Homo sapiens: one gene and its partners. The protein of the gene in region 4 interacts with the protein of the main gene of each other region in a pairwise test. Each region holds a gene or a part of one and is shown on either strand. Other genes may lie near its edges.

Region 1 (4,383 bases), 8.3 Mb from region 4:
GCGTGAGCCACCACGCCTGGTTTTTTTTTTAAGACGGAATCTCGCTCTGTCGCCAGGCTGGAGTTCAGTGGCACGATCTCGGCTCACTGCAACCTCTGCCTCCGGGGTTAAAGCGATTCTCCTGCCTCAGCCTCCCGAATAGCTGGGACTACAGGCGCGCACCACCATGCCCAGCTAATTTTTGTATTTTTAGTAGAGACAGGGTTTCACCATATTGGCCAGGATGGTCTCGATCTCATGACCTCGACCTCGTGATCTGGCCGCCTCGGCCTTCCAAAGTCCTGGGATTACACGCATGAGCCACCGCGACCGGCCTTGGCTAATTTTTGAAAAATATTTTTTGTAGGGTCTCCCTATGTTGCCCAGGCTGGTCTGAAACTCTTGGGTGCAAGGGATCCTCCCACCTGGGCCTCCCACAAGTCCTGGGATTACAGGCCTAAGCCACCACCCCAGGCCCTCTCAAAAATCGCTTTTTGAATGAATAACTCGGGAGGTCACGACTGGAACCCTGGGCTTGTTCCACCTTGCAGAAACAGAAGCGGAGACAGGGAGTTCCTTTATAAAAACTTTATTGAGGGGATGGGTAGAAAATGGGGGTGACGCCCTTGGAGTTGAATACATAAATAAATGAATAAGTAAATAAATAAAGCAATAAATAAGCCCCCGTGTGAGTCTGGGGGGCGTCCCCCGGCCCGCGGGGAGAGGGGAGCGGGCTCACGCCGATGTCAGCTGTATGGCGAAGACCTCGCCCTCCGCCGGCGACTCGGCCGCGCCCCCCGCCGCCTCGGGTCCGCCCTCCGCGCCTGCCGCCCCGCCAGCGCCGCCGCCCGCTCCGTTCAGACACACGGCCTCGCCTGAGCTCTCGGCCTCCTGCACGTTGTACTCGCCCTTCTTGCAGGCGGTGGACTGCACGTAGAAGGCCAGGCCGGCCCCCGCGGCCAGCAGCGCCGCGCCCCCCGCCGCGCCGCCCACGGCGACCCATAGCCACGGACCTGCGGGGTGGAGACCCTCGCGGAGGGTGGCCAAGCTCCGGGGGGCTTCTCCCACCGCCCCCCGCACTCCCACAGGCACGAAGTCAGTCCTCATGCCCCGGGGAGCTCACTGTCTGGCCTTGGGAGAAGGGAGACAACCCATGCAATAAGGCCACTCCCAGTGCCAGGGCGACCCGAGTCCCGATTTATATCGCACTTCAGCCCATGGGGATATAAACCCGTGACCACACTTAGCCCCCTGGCGACAAGTCAACTCTCCCCATCCCCCAAAAAATGAGGACCGGCAGGACCAGGTCAGGTTCCCCCGACCCCAGAGAGAACCCAGCCCCAGGAGCTTCAGGAAGTGAGAGAAGGCGATCTTGACCCCTCTCTCCCTCCAACATCCAATGACTTTGGTCCCTCCCCAATCTTCCCCACAGTGGATTGTGAATTGGGTCAAGTTTCCACCACGCAGAATCCAGCCCAAGTTTTAAAGTCCTTTCCTGCAGCAGTGACAGCCCCGGAGGGTCCCTCCCCTTGAATTCAGTCCCCCTGCCACCTCCATCTCCCACCCCTCAAAGTGCGATCAACAGCCCCACCCGCTAAGGCACCTTTGACTTCTACTCTGTCCCACTTCCGTCTAGTCTACCGGGACCGAGAGGGAGGCAGGCGGGGCCGGCCGCCCCAAGACCCAGGTCACGCCCCCTCTCAGATACCTCGCCCCGCCTCTCCCCAGCTGCCACTTACCGGCCACGCGCACCGTGATGCGCCGCGCGTGGCGCCCGTGCGCGTTGGTGGCTGCGCACTCGTACTCGCCGCCGTGGCTTCCCATGGCGCCTGCCACGCTCAGTGTGCTGTTGTTGCTCGACAGGCCGATGTTGAGGGCCCCCGGGGGCGCGCGCCAGCTGATCTGGGCTGGAGGCCAGGCCTCCGCGCGGCAGGTCAACGTGAAGTTTCCTCCTGGGCGCACGCCTCCAGGGGGCGAGGCAGCAAGTTCGGCCACCACTGGCCGGTCTGAAGGGCACAGAAGGTGAAGTGGGGCTTAGCGCCGGCCCAGCCACTGATCAAATGCCCTGCTCCGGCCCACAACGATCGATGGGAGACCACCGCGCCTCTGATGGGCAGAAGAGGATCCTGCCTCCTATCAGAGCCTCCTTCCCCGACAATCAGGCTGCTGTTGCGGCTAAAATTCCTCGCCCTTCTTCACCGAATGGAAGGAGGTGAAGCCCAGGTCAGTGTTCTAATCCAGGATTTGAGGAGGGCCGTGCTCCTATTCCCTATAATTTTCTTTTTCTGTTTTTCTAAGAAAGAGTCTCACTCTGTTGCCCAGGCTGGAGTGCAGTGGCGGGATCTCGGCTCCCTGCAACCTCTGCCTCCCAGGCTCAAGCGATTCTCCTGCCTCAGCCTCCCAAGTAGCTGGGACCACAGGCGCCCACCACCACGACCGGCTAATTTTTGTAGAGACGGGTTTTCGCCATGTTGGCCGGGCTGGTCTCGAACTCCTGGCCTCAAGTGATTCATCCGCCTCAACCTTCCAAAGTGTTGGGATTACAGACCTGAGCCACTGCGCCTGGCTAGAATTTTCATTACCCCCTGGTTTAGGCTGGAATTCCCTGTCCCCGAGAATGGGATTGGGAGAGGTGCCCTTGAATGCTCCCACCGCTGCGAGTCATTCTTCCGAGGACCGTGTCCCCTCCATCCGGTGCTGCCCCCACTCACATTCCACGCCCACAGTGACGGTCCGGGAGTCCGTGCCATGCGCATTGGTGGCCACACAGTGGTAAGTGCCCGCGTCCTCTCGGGACACGCGCTGCTGCTCAGGCCATGGGATGCCTTCCCGAGAGCAGCGCACTCCTGGGGAAGGGCGACCCCGGGCGGCGCAGGCCAGCGCGGAAGCCTCAGCCCCTTCCAGCCACGTCTGGTGACTTGGGCAGGTAGATTCATCCATCTCCGGTGGCGCTGCAAAGCAGCCATGGGGGATGTCAGGGAGTGCCTGGACCGTGGGGCACCCCTGCTCCCTACCCGCCTGGGCCTCGCTCACACTCCGCGCTCACGACGACTGTTTTGGCCACGGAGCCGTGGCGGTTGGTGGCGTTGCAGACGTAGATACCGGGTGCCAGGACTCTAGGGATTCTGGGAGCTCTGGGACTAGGGTCTGGGGGTGCCAGCGGCAGCAGCACCCCCTCAGTGGCGCCCCCGGAGCCCACGCACTTCACGCTTGGCTGTGGCTTCCCATCGACCTCACAGGAAAACAGGCGCCCAGATCCTTCCACCCATGTCCAATTGCTGGGGCAGCTCGGCTCCTCAAACCTGGGGCCATCTGGGAAACAGGATTGCAGGGGCTCACACGGGGGCCAGGAAGTCCAGCCGGGGTTGTCCCACAGATCCTGCCTAACTCCGCGGTGCCCCTACTCACATTCCACCGTGACGGCCACATTTTTGGCCGCAGAGCCCCGAGGGTTGGTGGCTTCGCAGCGGTAAGTGCCCGCATGCTCCCGGGCCACACGCAACAGCCCCTCGATGACGGCCCCGAGTTCTCCAGAGCGCACGCAGATCACATCAGGCGGCGGTACCCCGTGCGCCACACAGCTCAGCGAGGCTTCTGTTCCCTCCAGCCAAGTAATGCGTTCTGGGCAGCCCACGCTGTCCAGCGCTGGTGCGTCTGGAGGAGGGAGTGTATTGTTGGCTTTGGGGTTTGGGGGCAAATCTGACGTCCCTAGACCCTCCTTGGCGCGGCAAGGCTTCCACGAAGTGTTGTCCCTGCATAACCCTTGGACGCCGATCCAAGGAGGTGTCACGCTAGTCGAGGCATGCACTCTGTCTGGGAGCTTCCTGAGCCACCAGTGGCGCCTTTTTCGTCTAAAAACTTAAACACTCTGGACTGCCCGCCTTTCCACGACTCCGCCCAAATACCACGCCCTAGGCTAGGGGCACGCCCACCCGGTCCCTTCCATCCTCCAAGATCTTTCTCCAACCCCACTAACCAGCCTCTTCCCTTTCCCAAAACCTCACCCAAAGGGACACCTCATACCCTACTCCTACTCTTCCCTGGAGGCTGGCCACCCTCCAGACCTTGAACCAGATAGAAATGCACCCTGCGCACCCCCACTCACACTCCACCGTTAGCGTTACGTCCTTGACCGCCTCGCCTTGATCATTGGCCGCCTTGCAGCGGTAAGTGCCTGAGAGCGCCCGAGTGACTGGACCCAGCAGGCCCAGAGCCAGCACGGCCCCGCCGTCGGAGCGCGCACAGTGCACTGAGGGTTCTGGGTTCCCGCGGGCCTCGCAGCGCAGCGTCTGCTCTGGGCCCTCGGGCCACGTCCAACTCCTGGGGCAGTCCGAATCGTCTAGCCGGGGAGCGTCTGCGGGCAGGGCGTGGGGTTACAGAGGCTTAGACGTAAGAAATGGCTCC
Region 2 (3,297 bases), on a different chromosome or scaffold from region 4:
CACAGAAAGATGCTGATGATATACTAATAGAAGGGAAAAAGAACAAGTCCAGAACACAAACTTTTTAACCTATTTGTTAAAAAAGTAAAGAGGGATCCAAGAGAATAAAATGTGATAAAAAATCAGAGAGAATATAAAAGAAAAAGAAAAGAGAAGTAACATTTATATATTCTTTTAAGACATATTTAAAAGGGTCTACAAGGATACATATCAAACCATCAGACTGCACACTAGGAAATGGAAGGGAATTAGGGCCCAAAAGTTCAAAGGGATTTTTCCTTTTTTACTCAATATTATTCTTTATAACTAAAAATGTTCACTGTTTTTGTCATTTTGAGAAGACAAAAGCAAGTGAGAAATAATTTACTATCTTATGTTCACTCTTCTGTTTAAAAAAGAGCAAGATGTATAAACCAATGAAGGGAATATACTAAAACCCAACCGGAGACTAAAAGAGCAATAATAAAATTACATATTAAGAACAGCTACTGACACCTATAAAGAATCAAAGCAACTGACACAATAAATTTTATTGTTTCCATAATAATAGGCTCTGGACAAAGACAATGGAGACAATGACAACACATTTAAACTCCTATAACAAATTAATCTGTTACAAATTTCCAGTGGCTCAACATATTAAAATGCAAAACATATAAAGAAAAAAACAAGAAATATAAATATTCAGATTTTTGCAGTACAATGAAATGTCTTTTAAAAAAAGTTTGTTGTAATTGTGTATGTAATTCTGACAGTAATTCAAAACACAAAATCACACATTTTCCCTAACTTCCCATGTTCTGGATCTGGGGACTGCAATATTACAGAAATATGCAAAAATAAGTTTAGTGCTCAGAGATAAATAATTTTCCTTATTTCAATGCATCAATGCGCAAAAATTTCAATTCAAAAAAGCCAACCACTGCTATATGCAGATAAATAAAACATTTGACAACACTTTTATAATCAAACCCAACATTATACAAAAAATGTGTGGCACATGCACATACGTGTGCATATGTGTATGCAATGCCTATTTTAGAAAAAAGGTGTCTTGATGAAAATGATTTTGAAAATAGTCACTGACACACATTATATACAAAACCTTTTATATAAAAAATTAAACTATTTTCAATGAAATTCCATGTTCACATCCTATCTGAAAATTGCAATTGAATCATAAATAGGTCTACTAACGAAATCATGGCTAAGGCAGTTCTCTTTCCAAGGGTTTTCTTTTATATCCACCTGATGTCACTAATACTAATGTAGTCAAATATACAGATGCAACCTGACATGCCTATGCGTTATTACCTGGAGCTCTGTTCACTGTTATAATGGGAGAATTTACAGTTGCTACAAAGAATATTTTTCTTTTTTAAAATATACTGGTTTCTCTATTCCAAATTAAGCACTTACTTAAGACATTAAGAGGCTGAGAAGCCACTCCATTTGGTGTCAATATCAATAGCCCTATAAGAAAGAACTCTGTATTGGAATAGCTAGAAAAGTTCTCACTAAAGTGAGAACTTTAGTGCATCCTTCACCTGCATAGAATCAGTTTGGCTAATAGCTCTTTGCCCCAGAACACCAGTCTGGAGTTCAAATAGGCTCCTGAAAGTTCATCTCAGATAAGAAAAAAACATCTCACAGAAGCAATGTAAGGACACACAGGATAATAAAATGGTTAAAATCTGTTTGATGAGTCTTACTTACAGCATTCCTCATTTGGAGGAGCTGCTATAGGTTAAGGTGGAAACAAAAATGGAAAAGATCAGGGGCAATAAAGTTGAGTTGGCCAAGTATTTACGCCAGTAACCATTTCAATAAGTCTTTAAGCAAACAACTGCAATGACCTGGTACCTCTAAGCTCATCATTCTACAAGCACTGAGGATATGAAGCTTAAAAGGTGAAAACTTGAATACCCTTAGAAAAGGGGAACAGTCTGAGGCAAAAGTTGTAGGCCTGTAAATATATATTTTATTTTATTTTCATCTTTTTTGAGACGGAGTTTTGCTCTTGTTGCCCAGGCTGGAGTGCAGTGGTGTGATCTCGGCTCACTGCAACCCCCACCTCCCGGCTTCAAGTGATTCTCGTGCCTCAGCCTCCCGAGTAGCTGGGATTATAGGTACCCGCCACTATGCCCAGCTAATTTTTGTATTTTTCGTAGAGATGGGGTTTCACCATGTCAGGCTGGTCTCAAACTCCTGACCTCAGGTGATCCGCCTGCCTCGGCCTCCCAAAGTGCTGGGATTACAGGCGTGAGCCACCACGCCTGGCGTAAATATGTATTTTATATGCACACACAACTGTGTGTATTATTCTGTATATATTTACATACATATTCACAAGATGCCCTGCAGTATAATTCAAAAGGCCTTTAACAAGGAACAAATTGATTCTAGTATAGGCCCTAGAGTTCACACCACCTGTATAAGAAACAAATGTGCATGTATTCACATAATGTAAACCTCATCAACAAAAACACTAGGTTAAATAGTAAGTTTTAGGTTAATGGTTTCTAACCATTACCAATCAGTGATGTAATCAGAACATTTCTTACACTGAGAATCAAATTAAAAAGAAAACACAGCTGGACTTTAAATTCCACAAGAAAAAAGATGTTCAGTATGGCAAACATGAAGAAAGTTCAAATTCCAGAGTAGGGAAAAATATCAAAACTTTATAAATCTCCTGGGATGCAATTTAATTACTGCATCATTAGAAAAATAGACTCATAGAATGAACGGTGCTGCTATGGATTCTCTCAACACATCAACCCATGTTTATCTTTTTCCTCTTTTGTTTCCAGCTGGAGGTTTCTTCAACTGAAGGAGTTGTCCTCCTGTTCCAAAACCTGCAGAGGCAGGATTGGACACCCCAAAAGTCAAACCAGCTGATGCCGTGATGCCAGGATTGCTGAAGTTAAACCCAGATGTACTTGAGCTGCCAAAGCCTTATGTTTAGGGAAAAAAATATTCATATCAGAAGTTGAATTCCAAAAACAAATATAAAAACAGGGAGGAGCAGTAAATTTCTATCTAAAAGAATACATAATCTGTAAGAATAGCAAATATATTAAAGCCCTAAATTTCTAACATGAAATTTTAACAGGAAAATAATATAGCTAACAACTAAGTGGCACCCTGAAAGAGAGTGTAGTGATGCAGGTCAAAAGAGAAACCTTAGCACAAATTACTAAAATCTATATAAACTTCAAGTTGCCAGAAACTTTCCTGTTAATTAAATATGTCAAGGTGCCTTCCTCCTTAGACCCACCAAAAACATTTTATCAA
Region 3 (7,056 bases), on a different chromosome or scaffold from region 4:
TTCATAACTTGGGCAGGTATTTTTAGTCATCCTGAACGTGTCGCTGTGGACTGGGTGTCACCGCGGGACCGCACAGACACCTTACTGTCGTCTGCTGTAAAGGTCAGCTTCTATATTGGTTAATGCTTACAGATATCTGTTGAGGAATAAGAGAATGTAATTAGCCTTTGTATTTGTGAGTTGACGTTTTGACGGGATTTTTACTTCTTAGTATTTATTTGCATCGAGGTTACACACTGGATTAACAGCGTTTTTTGGAAACCTTTTTAAAACTTTTTCATTTCCTCAGAAATGATTCTGTTCAAAATGTGGTTTGGTTAAATTTGTGCAGGACCCCACCTGGTGGTGAGAGGCGGGTAACTGCAGGCTCATTAGCGAGTAAGAGTAGGATCAGTGGCAGGATTTAGCAAATGGTGTAGTTCAAGGATGAATAGAATTTGAGAATATCAAACTCAAAAAAATGAGGTTAATGAGAAGAAGAGCAAAGTTGGTGAAAACAAGAATATGTTAGAAACGATGATGTAGGAATGGAAAAACGACAACGCCTACCTGCAGAAAAGTCAACTAGTAAAAATGTGATTTTTTTTTTTGTATTGATATTAATGAGGTGTTTTGTCAAACAAAACCCTTTATGTTTTTGTATGGACATAAATCACTGTTGACCTGTTTCATGTTCCTGGAGATATCCTACTTGAGAAGGAATATTGATTGATGATTAGTTGACTGACTGATTTACTTGAGATGGAGTCCTTGCTCTGTGTCCCAGGCTGGAGTGCAGTGGCGCGGTCTTGGCTCACTGCACTCCTGGGTTCAAGCCATTCTCCTGCTTCAGCCTGCCAGGTAGCTGGGATGACAGGCGCGTGTCACCACGCCTGGCTAATTTTTGTATTTTTAGTAGAGACGGTTTCACCATGTTGGTCAGGCTGGTCTCGAACACCTGACCTCAGGTGATCCCCTGCCTCCGCCTCCCAAAGTGCTGGGATTACAGGCGTGACCCACCGCACCTGGCTGTGTGTGTGTGTGTGTGTGTGTGTGTGTGTGTGCGCGCGCGCAGGTGGAATCACCCTGTGTGCCCAGGCTGGTCTCGAACTCCTGGCCTCAAGTGAGTCTTTCATCCCGGCCTGTCAAAGTGCTAGAATTACAAGTGTGAGCCAGGTGCCTGGCCAGATTTTAGATTTTTTTGTTGTTGTTGAGATGGAATCTCATATTGCCCAGGCTGGATGCAGTGGCGCCATCTCGGCTCACTGCAACCTCTGCCGCACGGGTTCAAGCGATTCTCCTGCCTCAGCCTCCCGAGTAGCTGTGATTACAGGCACCTGCCACTGCTCCCGACTGATTTTTGTATTTTTAGTAGAGACGGGGGTTTCACCATCTTGGCCAGGCTGGTCTTGAACTCTTGACCTCGTGATCCACCCGCCTCGGCCTCCCAAAGTGGTGGGATCACAGGTGTGAGCCACTGCGCCAGGCCATATTTTAGAATTCTTAAGCTGTGTTGCAAAATTACGTGTCTTTGGAAGGGTGATTTAGTTTACACTACATATGATTTTTCCCCCTTTGATATTTTTCTACTTACCTTTTGCCACCAAAGGCTTAAATTAAAAGTGTGTTTTATATTTGTGTTGTGCATATATACGTGTGTGCTCTAGTTGGTATGCTTATGAACTGTGTACTAATACTTATTCCTCTCTGCCACCTTGAGATGGCATGTACCACTTGGGTGGGCTTTGAATCTGAAGTTATTTGTGTTTATAGGAATGTCCAGGACACAGAGTGCTTAGAAAGTATTGATTGAATTAGATTCTTTCTAGTTTGTGTATGTCCTGATGACCTTCCTGTGATTAATAATGGAATCCAGAATTCAAGAAAGTTGGAAAAAATAAGTTTCAGCAGCACTGGAGACTGAGTACTTAACCGAGTGTTGCTTTGTTTATTTTAGAGTCTCACACTGTCACCCAGGCTGGAGTGCAGTGTCGCGATCTTGGCTCACCGCAACCTCCACCTCTGGGGTTCAAGCGATTCTCCTGCCTCAGCCTCCCTGGTAGCTGAGATTACAGGCGTTCGCCACTACACCTGGCTAATTGTTGTATATTTAGTAGAGAGTGGGTTTTGCCATGTTGGCCAGACTGGTTTGGAAGCAGGTGATCCACCTGCTTTGGCCTCCCAAAGTGCTGGGATTACAGGTGTGAAGCACCGAGCCTGGCCCTATTTTATTATAATAATAATTTTTTTTGAGACAGGGTCTCACTCTGTCACCCAGACTGGAGTGCAGTGGCGTGATCTCAGCTCACCCCAGCCTCCGCCTCCTAGTGTCAAGTGATTCTCCTACCTCAGGCTCCGGAGTAGCTGGGATTACAGGCACGTGCCACTATCCTGGCTAATTTTTTTTTTTTTTTTTTTTTTTTTTTGAGTTTCACTCTTGTTGCCCAGGCTGGAGTGCAGTGGTGCAATCTCAGCTCACTGCAACCTCTGCCTCCCAGGTTCAAGCGATTCTCCTGCCTCAGCCTCCCGAGTACATGGGATTACAGGCATGCACCACGACACCCAGCTAATTTTGTATTTTTAGTAGAGACAGGGTTTTGCCCTGTCCAACTCCTGACCTCAGGTCATCCGCCTGCCTTGGCCTCCCAAAGTGTTGGGATTACAGGCGTGAGCCAGCGTGCTGGCCTAACTTCTATATTTTTAGTAGAGATAGGGTTTCACCATGTTGGCCAGGCTGGTCTTGAACTTGTGACCTCAATCCACCTTCCTCGACCTTCCAAAGTGCTGGGATTACAGGTGTGAGCCACCAAGCCTGGCCTATTATGATTTTTTAATGAAAGGGAGTTAAGCTTGGAAGTATCTAATAGGTGATGAGTGCTAGTTGAAGAAATGGTCTCTGATCTTGAGTAATGGGGAAATAACTTCTGTGTTTGTTTCAGAAATATTTTAGGACATACTGGATAATGAAATAAGTAGGTGATGTGTGTGATAAGGAATGAAAATTCACTGCTGTGGGTTTTTTTTTTTCCTACCTGTCTGTACTTTTTTTGTTTTTGCTTTTTTTTTTTGTTGTTTGAGACCAAGTCTCACTCTGTCACTTAGGCTGGAGTGCAGCGGCGTGATCTTGGCTCACTGCAACCTTTGCCTCCCAGGCTCAAGCAATTCTTGTGCTTCAGCCTTCTTTCTGAGTAGCTGGGATTACAGATGTGCACCACCACACCCAGGTAATTTTTTTTTTTTTTTTAAGACAGAGTCTTGCTCTGTTGCTCAGGCAGGAGTGCAGTGGCACTATCTTGGCTCACTGCGCCTGCACCTCCCAGGTTCAAGCAATTCTCCTGCCTCAGGCTGCCGAGTAGCTGGGACTACAGGCGCTCACCACCATGCCTGGCTAATTTTTGTATTTTTAGTAGAGAAAGGGGTTTGCCATGTTGGCCGGGCTGGTCTTGAACACCTCAGGTGATCTGCGTGCCTCGGCCCTCCAAAGTGCTGGGATTACAGGCGTGAGCCACCTCACCTGGCCTCAGATGAATTTAGAAACCACTATTTTTTTTTGAGATGGAGTCTTGCTCTGTTGCCCCGGCTGGAGTGCTGTGGTGTGATCTCAGCTCACTGCAAACTCTCCCGGGTTCAAGCAGTTCTCCTGCCTCACCTGGAACTACAGGCGCCACCACGTCTGACTGGGTTTTGTATTTTTAGTAGAGACGGGGTTTCACCACGTTGGCCATGCTGTTCTCAAACTCCTGACCCCAGGTGATCCACCTGCCATGGCCTCCCAAAGTGCTGGGATTATACGCATGAGCTACCCACGCCTAATCTTTATGTGACGTGTTTTTTTAAAAGTCCTAAACTTAGAGGTCATTGAATTTATTGGAGAAGGTTATTTTTGATTAATGGCGATTAGGCTAATTTTTTTCATGGTTTTAATAGAGATTTTTCGTTTTTTTAAACTTGATTTAGATGTATTGCTTTTGGAAATTGCAGAAATTAACAAACCGAGTTTTCCTAAGAAATATTTTTTCTTAATTTCTTAATTGAAAAGTTTTCTATGGCTTCCTTAATAGACAGTAGGACCTAGTTAATAGTTTAAAGAAGTTTCATAATTGTTATTAGAAATGTTAATTATGGGCCGGGTGTGGTGGCTCACACCTGTAATCCCAGTACTTTGGGAGGCCAAGGTGGTCAGATCACAAGGTCAGGAGTTTGAGACCATCCTGGCTAGCATGGTGAAACCCCATCTCTACTAAAACAATACAAAAATCAGCTGGGCGTGGTGACAGGTGCCTGTAGTCTCAGCTACTTAGCAGGCTGAGGCAGGAGAATGGCGTGAACGCGGGAGGCGGAGCTTGCAGTGAGCCGAGATCCCTCTACTGCACTCTACTGCACTCTGCCTGGGTGACAGAGTGAGACTCCGTCTCAAAAAAAAAAAAAAATAGCCAGGCATTGTGGGACACACCTGTAGTCCCAGGTACTCGGGAGGCTGATGCAGGAGAATCGCTGGAACCAGGGAGGTGGAGGTTGCAGTGAGCTGAGATTGTGCTGCTGCACTCCAGCCTGGGCAACAGAGTGAGACTCAAACTCAAAAAAAAAAAAAAGTTAATTTTGTAGTTAGAGAATATCTTCCTGCTCTACGCAAATTCCCTTCCAGCCTGAAATTATTTGTTTTTTTATTTTTTATTTAAAAAAAAATTTATTATTTTTGTGACAGGGTCTTGCTCCGTTACGTAGGCTGGAGGGCATTGGTGCGTTCACGTCTCACTAGCATCGACTGCCTGGGCTCAAGTGATTTTCCTGCCTCAGCCACTTCCAGTAGCTGGGACTACAGGTGCACACTGCCACACCCTACTGAGTTTTTATATTTCGTAGAGACAAGATTTTGCTGTGTTACTCAGCGTGGTCTTGAACTCCTGAGCTGAAGTGATCCCCCTGCCTCAGCCTGCCAAAGTGTTAGGATTACAGGCATGAGCTACTGTACCCAGCTGTGATTTCTTTTAAAGTGCTACTTTACAGCACTGTCACTTTTATTTTATCATTTTTAACTTTAAAGTTTTTTGTTTATTTTTATTTATTTTATTTTTTGAGATGAAGTTTCGCCCTTGTTGCCCAGGCTAGAGTGCAATGGAGTGGTCTCGGCTCACTGCAACCTCTGCCTTCCAGGTTCAAGTGATTCTCCTGCCTCAGCCTCCCAAGTAACTGGGATTACAGGCGCCCGCCACCACACCTGGCTAGTTTTTGTATTTTTTGTAGAGACAGGATTTCACCATGTTGTCCAGACTGGTCTTGAATTCCTGACCTCAGGTGATCCACCCGCCTCAGCCTCCCAAAGTGCTGGGATTACAGGCGTGAGCCACTGCGCCTGGCTTAAAATTTTTATTTTTTATATATTTTGTTTTTTTCTGAGACAGGGCCTTGCCCTGTCTCTTGTCCAAGTTGGAGTGCAGTGACATGACATGGCTCACAGCATCCTTGATCTCTTGCGCTCAAGTGATCCTGCCATTTCAGCCTCCTGCATAGCTGGGAGTACAGGCATGTGCCACCCCACTCAGCTAATTTTTTTTATCTTTTTGTAGAGATGGTGTCTTACTGTGTTGCCCAGGCTGGTCTCAAGCTCTTGGGCTCAAGTGATCCTTCTGCACATTTCCAAGGTTGTTTCACTCCTGTGTCTTTGCTGTCTAGAAGCTTTTCAGTGTGATGTAATCCCACTTGTCTGTTTCGGCTTTTGTTCCTTGTGCTTTTGGGGGTCATATCCAAACAAAGATTGCTGAGGGGCCAAATTTTAAATTGTGTATAATTTTAATGACTTCAGATTTAAATAGCTGCATTTGGCTTATGGAGTCTTTTGAGCAGCATGGTTTTAAAAAGGTTTTTGCCAAGTGGGGTTCTAATGGACACCTATGCTTGTAGAGCTCTGATGTGAGTGATCTGCTGTAGAAATTACTTCTTTTGATTTAGTATATTATTTTAAAATGCAGGTGATGCACTGGTTTCTTGGTGAGGGAAGCTGGTTTTTCCTGGCTGAGCTTCTGTAGGGTGGAGGGCTGGAGTCCAGGCTCTCGCTGGGCAGGGAAGGCAGCTTGAGTGTGCCTTCCAGTCCTCCTGAGGGCCCACATTTTTCTGGGATCACCTGTTTTCTGTAATGTGCATTGAACACACGGGCCAGGAGAAGAGGGAAGTAGAGGAGCTTTGTCCTCTGTGCTCATCCTCACAGTGCTGGGCGGGCCAGAAGGATTCAGGGCCAACCTTAGGGAGATGAAGGCCAGTTAAAATGTTTTATTGCCACAAATGGTGTCTTTTAAGAAATGAATCCATGTATTTTACACTTAAATGATATTAGGCTACTCCGGGCACACTGCCTATGGGGTAGCCCTGCTCTGCAAGGAGTAGTAAAAAAAAAAAAAAAAAAAAAGTTAAAGATACAACTTAGTTTCTCTGTGACTAGGGAAATCGTCCAAGTATGTATCAAATAATGCTAATTGGTACCTAGTTTTATATCTTGATTAGGCAACTTTTTGCTTAAAATTGTTTTGGAATGCATTAGTATTTCTACAGCTTCAGGCTGCTTTATCATCTAATACACAGTTGGATATTTAATATATAGTTTTATCAGTTTTTTTTAAACACTGTTTTTGAGAGGTCTGAGGAAAAAAAAGATAGTGTTACCAAAAATACTTCTATAGGGAAATACTGATAGAAATGTATAGGTAGCCTTGAAATTCTGAGGTTAATAAAAAAATTTGAATGCAGGTAACCTTTCATGGAGTTTGTCAAATTTTAAATTGTGTCTTACATCAGTGATGACTGAAGCAGTAAGGAGTGAGCTTGCAGCAAACAGTGGGGATTGTTGCAGCATCAGCACTTCAGCCAGCTCTGCAGGTTTCCTTGGAGACACGTGGATTTCTCTTTCTAGACCTTCAGCTATTTTCTTTTTTTTCTTGTTTTCTTGAGATGGAGTCTTGCTCTGTCGCCCAGGCTGCAGTGCAGTGGTGCGATCTCGGCGCACTGCAAGCTCCACCTCTCGGGTTCACACCGTTCTCCTGCCTCAGCCTGCCAAGTAGCTGAGACTACAGGCGCCCGCCACCA
Region 4 (7,828 bases):
GAAGCTGAGGCAGGCAGATCACCTGAGGTCAGGAGTTCAAAACAAGCCTGGCCAACATGGCGAATCCCCGTCTCTACTAAAAATACAAGAATTAGCCAGGCATGGTGGCGGGCATCTGTAATCCAAGCTACTTAGGAGGCAGAGGTTACGGTAAGCCAAGACCGCACCACTGCACTCCAGCCTGGGTGACAGAGCAAGACTCTATCTCAAAAAAAAGAAAGAAAAAAGAAAAGAAAATAAAGGACCAGGCGTGCTGGCTTACGCCTGTAATCCCAGCACTTTGGGAGGCTGAGGTGGGCAGATCACGAGGTCAGGAGATCGAGACCATCCTGGCCAACATGGTGAAACCCATCTCTACTAAAATACAAAAAATTAGCTGGGCGTGGTGGCACGCGCCTGTAGTCCCAGCTACTCAGGAGGCTGAGGCAGGGGAATCACTTGAACCCGGGAGGCGGAGGTTGCAGTGAGCTGAGATCGCGCCACTGCACTCCAGCCTGGTGACAGAGTGAGACTGCATCTCAGAAAAAAAAGAAAAGAAAAGGCCATCTTGGTGGGGTGTGTACCATTAGGAGGTTATGAAGTGTGACTTTGTCAAATGTGTGTGTACATGAGTGTGTGTGCTTGGGGGCTGAGGACAGGCATCTGAAGGTCTGTGCTCAGTGGGGCATGTCCAAGCTCCACGGACAGCCACGTGTGCAGGATTGGCATGTGTCGAGGTATACAGCAGTGTCCCAGCAATGCACAGCGAAACTGATGTGAAGTTTCACGGCTGTGCCCTCTGGGGAAGTGTACATCTGAGGGCCACCAGGTGAGAACACCATTGTGCACTGGCAGAGGGTTCCTCTGCTGGCAGCGTCCTGACCGTGCCAACCCTGGTGCAAATCGAGCATAGCCAGGCGGCTTGGGCAGCAGCGCTCACTTCATTTTCAGCTGCTGCATCCGTACAGCGTCCTCCTGCCCCGCCAGCTCTGGCGTCTCCATCAACTGCAGCAGGGCCACCTGGTGGGGGAATGAGCAACACGAAGGATGTCTCCACGAGCAGAACCCACCCCCTGCCCTCCAAGGATGTTCAGGAAAAAACAGAGGCACCCAGAAAGGCAGTGCCCGGGTAGAACCACGAGGGGCAGTGCTTTGTGTAGGAAGAGTCCGAAATTCAGTTTAGAGGCTCTCTCAGAAAGGAGACAGCAGGCAGGCCAGAGGCAGTGCTGAGCGCGATGTGGGCGTGGCCTGGGAACAACAGTGACGTCTTAGCCAGGCATTGGCCGTAGGGGTGGGTTAGGTTGCGCCTCATGGTCCCAGGGACGGGGACCCAGGATAAAAGTAGGCCAAAAAGCCTGGACGCGGTGGCTCACGCCTGAAATCCCAGCACTTCGGGAAGCAGAAGAGGGCGGATCGCTTGAGACCAGGAGTTCGAGACCAGCCTTGCCCATATGGCACAACCCCGTCTCTACTAAAAAAAATACAAAATACAAAAATTATGCCTGTAATCCCAGCTACTCAGGAGGCTGAGGCAGGAGAATCGCTTGAATCTGGGAGGCGGAGGTTGCCGTTAGCCGAGATCGCGCCATTGCACTCTAGCCTGGGTGAGAGAGCAAGAGAGCAAGAGCCTGTCTTAAAAAAAAAAAAAAAAAAAAAAAACACCAGAAAGAAAAAGGCCAAAGAGACGCTGAGACGGGTCGCTCATGGGGGGCGTGGCCTAGGAATTCCAGTCACACACGGTTGCAGGGCCGAGCAGGCGGATCGCAAGAGAGAAATAGGCAAAGAACTAAAGCTGTGATGGAGGAATAATACGGAGGAGGCGTGGCCTGGGACCCCCCTCGCCTGTATCTACGGGAGGTTGAGGGTGGGACCCTAGACGCGGAACAACCAGAGTGGGTGGAGCATTGTTGGGGCGGGATCTGGGCATCTTGGAATAGCATTTAGGCGGAGCTGGGAGAAAGCGGGAGTGCTCTGGGAATAAGGACAAAACTTGGGAAAAAAATTGGGGATGAACAGCAGAGGGCAAGGTCCGAGAATCCCCAAGTGAAGCCTTAATAGAGGATTGGGGTGGGACAGGAAGGGGTGAGGTCTGTGTATGGGATACTGGGACCACCCCCCAACCAGGGGTGCGTCATGAGAGGAGCCGGCCAGGGTCCTAGAGACACGGCGGGGAAGGGGTGGTGGCCTCACCGTGCCCAGCCGCGTCTGCTCCAGCTCCTGCAGGCTGCGCACGTGGCCGGCGAGCAGCGGCTGCCTGCGAGGCCCGCCCAGCTCTGCTTCCACCGCCAGCACCTCCCGCGAGGCGGCGGCGAAGGCCTGGGTCACCCCGTGCACTGTGCTCCGGTAGCGCGCGAAGTCGTAGTCAGGGCCGCTGCGCAGGTACTGGCGGTGGCCTCTGCGGCATGTGGGGACCCTGAGGCCGCGCCCCCAGGCTCTCAGGCCCTGCACCGGCGCCAACCACCTGAAAGGCCCCCAGGAAGTGTCCCCAGACACCAGAGGGGAGGACTGGTAGGTAGGAAGGACGCTTCCTGACTCCCGCAGGGGAACGCGAGACAGGCCCACCCCTGCTCTTGGGGAGGAGAGAGAAGCCACGAAGAGTGAGTCGTCGGGTAGTGGGGACGTGCTGTGGGGCCTTTTTCGTGAAGGTGAGGACCCGGTGCCCCGAAATCCCCGCCCCATCTGACTCTGCAGCCACACAAGGACCCAGCTCCTCCTCCAGGCACGCCCGCCGAGAACACGCCCACGCCCGGAGCGGGCGGGGGACCGAACCCTGAGCCCCTCCGCGCCCCCACTCACTCCTCCAGTCGGCGGAAGCCCTGCGCGCGCTCAGCCTGCAGCTGGTGGATGCGCTGCACCAGCGTCCGGATCGGGGCGTCTTTCTGCGGGACAGGGGGCACGGCTGGGGCATGAAGCCCGCGCCCCTGGGTCTGCGCCGCCCGCCCCGCGCCCGTTCCCGCTTGGGCCTGGGCTCACCCAGGGCCACGCCGGCTCCTCGCGTCCCCGAGCTTCGGTGGCCTCCTCAGCAGCAGGCACTGCAGGGACCGTAGGCTCCGCCGCGGTCTCGGTGATCATGACTGCGCAGCCCTGGCCAGGCTCCGGAGCAGGCCCTTCCGCTGCGCCCGACGCCCCCTACAGGCCGGGAGGTCCACGGACCCCCTACCCTGCGGCCGGCCAGCCAGAAGGAAGAAAGGGGAACCAAGACCGCGGGCCGCCCAGTCAAGCCCACCCTTCTTGTTCCCGTCCAGGGCCCGCCTCCGATCGTGTTTTTCCTTGATTGTGCGGCTCTGAATACAGAACAGCTGTTAGCCTTGAGTTCGTTCCTATGCTTGTATCTCAACACCGACTTCCACTTGAAGCGGGTACTGAGCGTGGGTTTTGACGTTCAAGAGTGTTAAGTAAGCCTGGGCAACCTAGGGAGGCCCGATCTCTACAGAAAAACCAATTAGCCCGACATGGTGGCTCCCGCCTCCAGTCCCAGCTACTCGGGAGGCTGAGGTGGGAGGATTACATGAGCCCGGGAGTTGGGGGCTGCCATGAGCTATGACCATGCCACTGCACTCCAGCCGGAGCCACAGTGAGTCTGCCTCAAAAAAAGTGCAGTGGCTGGAACTCCACCAACATTAACAGAGATTCACTGGCTCTTCAGAGAATCACAGGGGTGAAGACAAGATTCAGTGACAGGGACGGTGTCAACAGCCCACCGAGTTGAATTGGGTGTCTTGTGTAATAGCCCTGAGCCTGGAGCATAGCAGGGGCCAGAACGACCTCAAAGTACAGAGGAGGCCTTGGAGCTTCCTGCTGGAGGGATACATGGGCTAGACAGAGCTTTGGAAAGCTTCCTCCTCCAGGGGCCCAGCCGGAGGAGCAGGAAGATGCTGGTAGCCTGACTTAGTGAAGAGGGACCAGCTCAGGTATGGGGTGACAGACACCAGCCTTTAAGGGGGAAGGGACTAGGCTGTTAGTGAGTTGGGAGTTTTTCTTGCCGATGGGTTCGTGGTCTCGCTAACTTTGAAGAATGAAGCTGTGGACCTTCGCGGTGTGTGTTACAGATCAAAAAGAGTCCACGGACCAGGAGAGTGAGCAGCAGGGCAGTTTATTGAACAAAGCGAAAGGAAAGCTTCCACATGCTGGAAGGGGACCCGGAAGGGTTGCCGTTGCTGGCTCCGGTGGCTAGGGCTCATATCCCTATGTTACCCCTCCCCTTTCTTTTTGTCCATTGAGAGTGGTTCTTTTTTCAATCCTCCTCTGGAGTGTTTTTTTTTTTTGTTTTTTTTTTTTTTTTTTTTTAGTGAGACAGAGTCTCGCTCTGTCGCCCAGGCTGCAGTGCAATGGCACGATCTCGGCTCACTTCAAGCTCTGCCTCCCGGGTTCACGCCATTCTCCTGCCTCAGCCTCCCCAGTAGCTGGGACCACAGGCGCCCGCCACCACACCCGGCCAATTTTTTGTATTTTTAGTAGAGGCAGGGTTTCACCGGGTTAGCCAGGATGGTCTCAATCTCCTGACCTCGTGATCCGCCCGCCTCGGCCTCCCAAAGTGCTGGGATTACAGGCGTGAGCCACCGCGCCCGGCCTGGAGTGGTTAATTCTGAATCCTTCACTCGATTGGTTAAGAACTCAAAACACTGAGTCACAGGGGTCTTCTGTGAAAGTCCCCAAACCTGCCCAGTAAATCCTGCCAACTCCACCCCTCAGTCCCCTCTCTCAACAGGAGAGCCCAACTGCTGTTGGGGTGTGGGAGGATGACCACTCTAATTGCTTCCTGCTGAATAGGGGCATAGAAGGGGTTCTGTAGCTGAGGTTTCCTCGTGAGAGGTGGTTTGGGTGTCAACGTCCGGGTATGGGCCGGCAGGCTGGTTTAGGGGTCCTTGATAATAGGTGCTGGTTGAAGTCATCTGAGGTTCCATCTGCAGTAACATTTCTAGTTTCATTGATTCTATTCAGGAAGAAACGAAAGGATGAAGGAACTGAAAAGACATGGGCCAAAGGTTACTCCTAGAATAATCATAAGGAAGGGACCTAAAAATGGAAGAAGCCAGTGGAGAACAGGCTGTGAGAACCCTGAGGTAGTTTCGGTTGTCCCACCATGTAGTCTGCTAGCTCTATCCTGAAGTCATTTAATTCCATCTCTCACTATGCCTGATTTATTGACATAAAAACAACATTCCTTGTTCAGAAAAAGGCATGTTCCTCCCCTTTCGGCAGTGAGGAGATTGGAGATCTAGTGCTCACTGGTTCTGGAGAACCACAGCTGCTAATGAGTCTATTTGGTCCTGGATTTGAGTAAGTTGGAGAGAGATTTCATCTAGGCTGTGAGTCCACTTCCTAGGTGGTAGTAAATCCTAAACCAGCCAATAGAGGAAGTAGTGAGATTGCTCTCGGCTGAAGCTTAGCATGAATGGGCACAGCTACTGCCTCTTCTGAAAAGGAATAAGTCACAGGAGGTACTATGTAGGCTAAAGTACAAGTTCCTGTCCAGTTGGTGGGGAGGCAAATATAGAAGGATCTTCCACACACAAAGAAAACTCCTTATCAGGGTTCTATACACCCCTGTAGCTGAAAACTCATAAGGGCTGTGGTCAGTCTAAATTCATTTCTCATTCCCATGATTTGAGGGTTCAGGACAAATGGGCCACTCCTAGCAGTTGGAGCTGAATAGAATTTGCCAAGGACGTATTATGGGGTTCCTGTAAGGCAAACCGGTGGCTAGCTGCATTAAGAAAAACTCTCGGCTGGGTGCAGTGGCTCACGCCTGTAATCCCAGCACTTTCGGAGGCCAAGGCTGGTGGATCACGAGGTCAGGAGATCAAGACCATCCTGGCTAACATGGTGAAACTCCATCTCTACTAAAAATACAAAAAATTAGCTGGGTGTGGTGGTGGGCGCCTGTAGTCCCAGCTACTCGGGAGGCTGAGGCAGGAGAATGGTGCAAACCTGGGAGGCGGAGCTTGCAGTGAGGGAGATCGCGCCACTGCACTCCAGCCTGGGCGACAGAGCGAGACTCCATCTCAAAAACAAAACAAAACAACAACAACAAAAAGAAAAACTCGCGCACCCCAGACAGGAAGCAGGAAGCAATGGGGTTTTTTTAACCCTTTGCCTGTGAGAGAGGAACCAAGTCCCAGGAGGGGGATATCCTGGGCAAAAGGAAGTCTGCCCCAGCAGTAATTGCTTGTTGTTTTGGCCTCTGGTGGGGGAATTATTTGGCTTGGGGTGGTAAATCTTAAGGGATAGGTGACTGAAATAGGGTTTCCAAGGAACTCATGTTTATTTCCACAAAACATTGGGGTGCCAGTAGTCGTACTGTAAGAATTAGAATATTTGAACTCTATATCCAAGGCAAGCTATAGTTGCAGCCAGCCACGTGTCCCACACCTTGTGATCATGGGAACACTTGATGGGAGATACAAAGGAGTGGAGGCGAAGAGAAGGAGGTTATTGTGCCCACAGAACCTATGATTGGGATAGCTGATAGAGCGAATTGTCGGAGAATGGCGGCGGCTGCTTTTAAGGCTGCTTGAGCCCTGTCAGGGAAATTGGACCTATCACTAGGATGAAAAAATCCTGGACCCTTAGAAGTGTTAGCTATGTATGAGGCCTCAGAGCTTTCCACCCATATGTTGAGGGGGGCCGGAACTGCTGTATATAAGGGGGAAATTAGGGTTCATGCAAACCCAACAGGATGAGTTACTCTGATTGGGAAGTGCTTCAAATAAAAACCTGGAGGACATGTTTATAATTCCCTCAAGGTAGGCCGGGCACGGTGGCTCACGCCTGTAATCCCAGCACTTTGGGAGGCTGAGGAGGGCAGATCACGAGGTCAGCAGATCGAGACCACGGTGAAACCCCGTCTCTACTAAAAATACAAAAAATTAGCCAGGTGTGGTGGTGGGCGCCTGTAGTCCCAGCTACTTGGGAGGCTGAGGGAGGAGAATGGTGTGAACCCGGAAGGCAGAGCTTGCAGTGAGCCGAGATCACGTCACTGCACTCCAGCCTGGGCGACAGAGCGAGACTCTGTCTCAAAAAAAAAAAAAAAAAATAATAATAATAATAATAATTCCCTCAAGATTAGGGGAAGACATTGAGCGGGGAAAGGTTAAGACTTGGGCAAAGGCAAGGAATGTTAGGATGTTAGAGTACATTCTGTTTTTAAAACAAGAACTGAGGTAGAACTTATGAGCACTGATTAATTTTCCTTCTGAAAGAGGATACATAAGTCTTCCAATGGCTCGTGGGTGTAAGAAGGTTTGTCTGGCTGACTCTTAGATTCCCAAGCTAATGATTCTGCGGGTTTTTCAGGCTGTATCCAAGGTTTGATTCAGGTGTGATGGATCCAAGACTCCACTCCAATCACCTTGACTGCAGTTGGAGTGGAGAGGATAACCAAATATGGTCCTTCCCACGATGGATCTAGGGATGGGGAGGTAGAGGGGAGGGACTTGACTAATACTAGATCCCTGGGATGGAACGATGCTTTTCCCTTTTCTCGGTGGCATCCCTCGGGTAATGTCTTTAGGATTTGCTGGTACCTAGCCAAAGAAGTTATGTCCTTGACCAAGTTGGCAGTTTCTCAATCAAGTAAGAGGTTGTTTGTGAGAAAAGGCTGTCCATATAGCATTTCATAAGGACTGAGTCCTATCTTGTGGGGAGAATTTAGGATCCTTAATAATGCTATGGGCAAGAGGGTGAGTTTCCATGGGAGGTGAGTTTCTTGTGTTAATTTCCTTGAGTGCCTTTTGAGTGTTTCATTAATCTTCTCGACTTTCCCTGAGGATTGTGGTCCCTGGGCGCAATGAAGGTGATTTTTTTTTTTTTTTTTTGAGGGAGTCTCGCTCTGTCGCACAGGCTGGAG

The links.
Region 1: the proteins of REX1BD (region 4) and ICAM5 interact in binary tests that used the Homo sapiens proteins (3 or more experiments, as listed by UniProt).
Region 2: the proteins of REX1BD (region 4) and NUP58 interact in binary tests that used the Homo sapiens proteins (3 or more experiments, as listed by UniProt).
Region 3: the proteins of REX1BD (region 4) and DNAJB6 interact in binary tests that used the Homo sapiens proteins (3 or more experiments, as listed by UniProt).

The regions. Positions count from the first base shown.
Region 1 is NC_000019.10:10,292,948-10,297,330, reverse strand, and holds the end of ICAM5 (intercellular adhesion molecule 5 precursor), read right to left. Parts: intron 4,334-4,383; coding exon 4,085-4,333; intron 3,634-4,084; coding exon 3,388-3,633; intron 3,292-3,387; coding exon 3,013-3,291; intron 2,931-3,012; coding exon 2,691-2,930; intron 1,986-2,690; coding exon 1,719-1,985; intron 993-1,718; coding exon 715-992; 3' UTR 553-714; downstream 1-552. UniProt on the Homo sapiens protein: ICAM proteins are ligands for the leukocyte adhesion protein LFA-1 (integrin alpha-L/beta-2).
Region 2 is NC_000013.11:25,339,625-25,342,921, reverse strand, and holds the end of NUP58 (nucleoporin p58/p45), read right to left. Parts: intron 2,958-3,297; coding exon 2,788-2,957; 3' UTR 501-2,787; downstream 1-500. UniProt on the Homo sapiens protein: Component of the nuclear pore complex, a complex required for the trafficking across the nuclear membrane.
Region 3 is NC_000007.14:157,339,956-157,347,011, forward strand, and holds part of DNAJB6 (dnaJ homolog subfamily B member 6), read left to right. Parts: intron 1-7,056. UniProt on the Homo sapiens protein: Has a stimulatory effect on the ATPase activity of HSP70 in a dose-dependent and time-dependent manner and hence acts as a co-chaperone of HSP70. Plays an indispensable role in the organization of KRT8/KRT18 filaments.
Region 4 is NC_000019.10:18,584,025-18,591,852, reverse strand, and holds the start of REX1BD (required for excision 1-B domain-containing protein), read right to left. Parts: upstream 3,056-7,828; 5' UTR 3,052-3,055; coding exon 2,953-3,051; intron 2,860-2,952; exon of another isoform or gene 2,859-2,859; coding exon 2,776-2,858; exon of another isoform or gene 2,659-2,775; coding exon of another isoform or gene 2,441-2,658; coding exon 2,170-2,440; intron 1,000-2,169; coding exon 920-999; intron 1-919.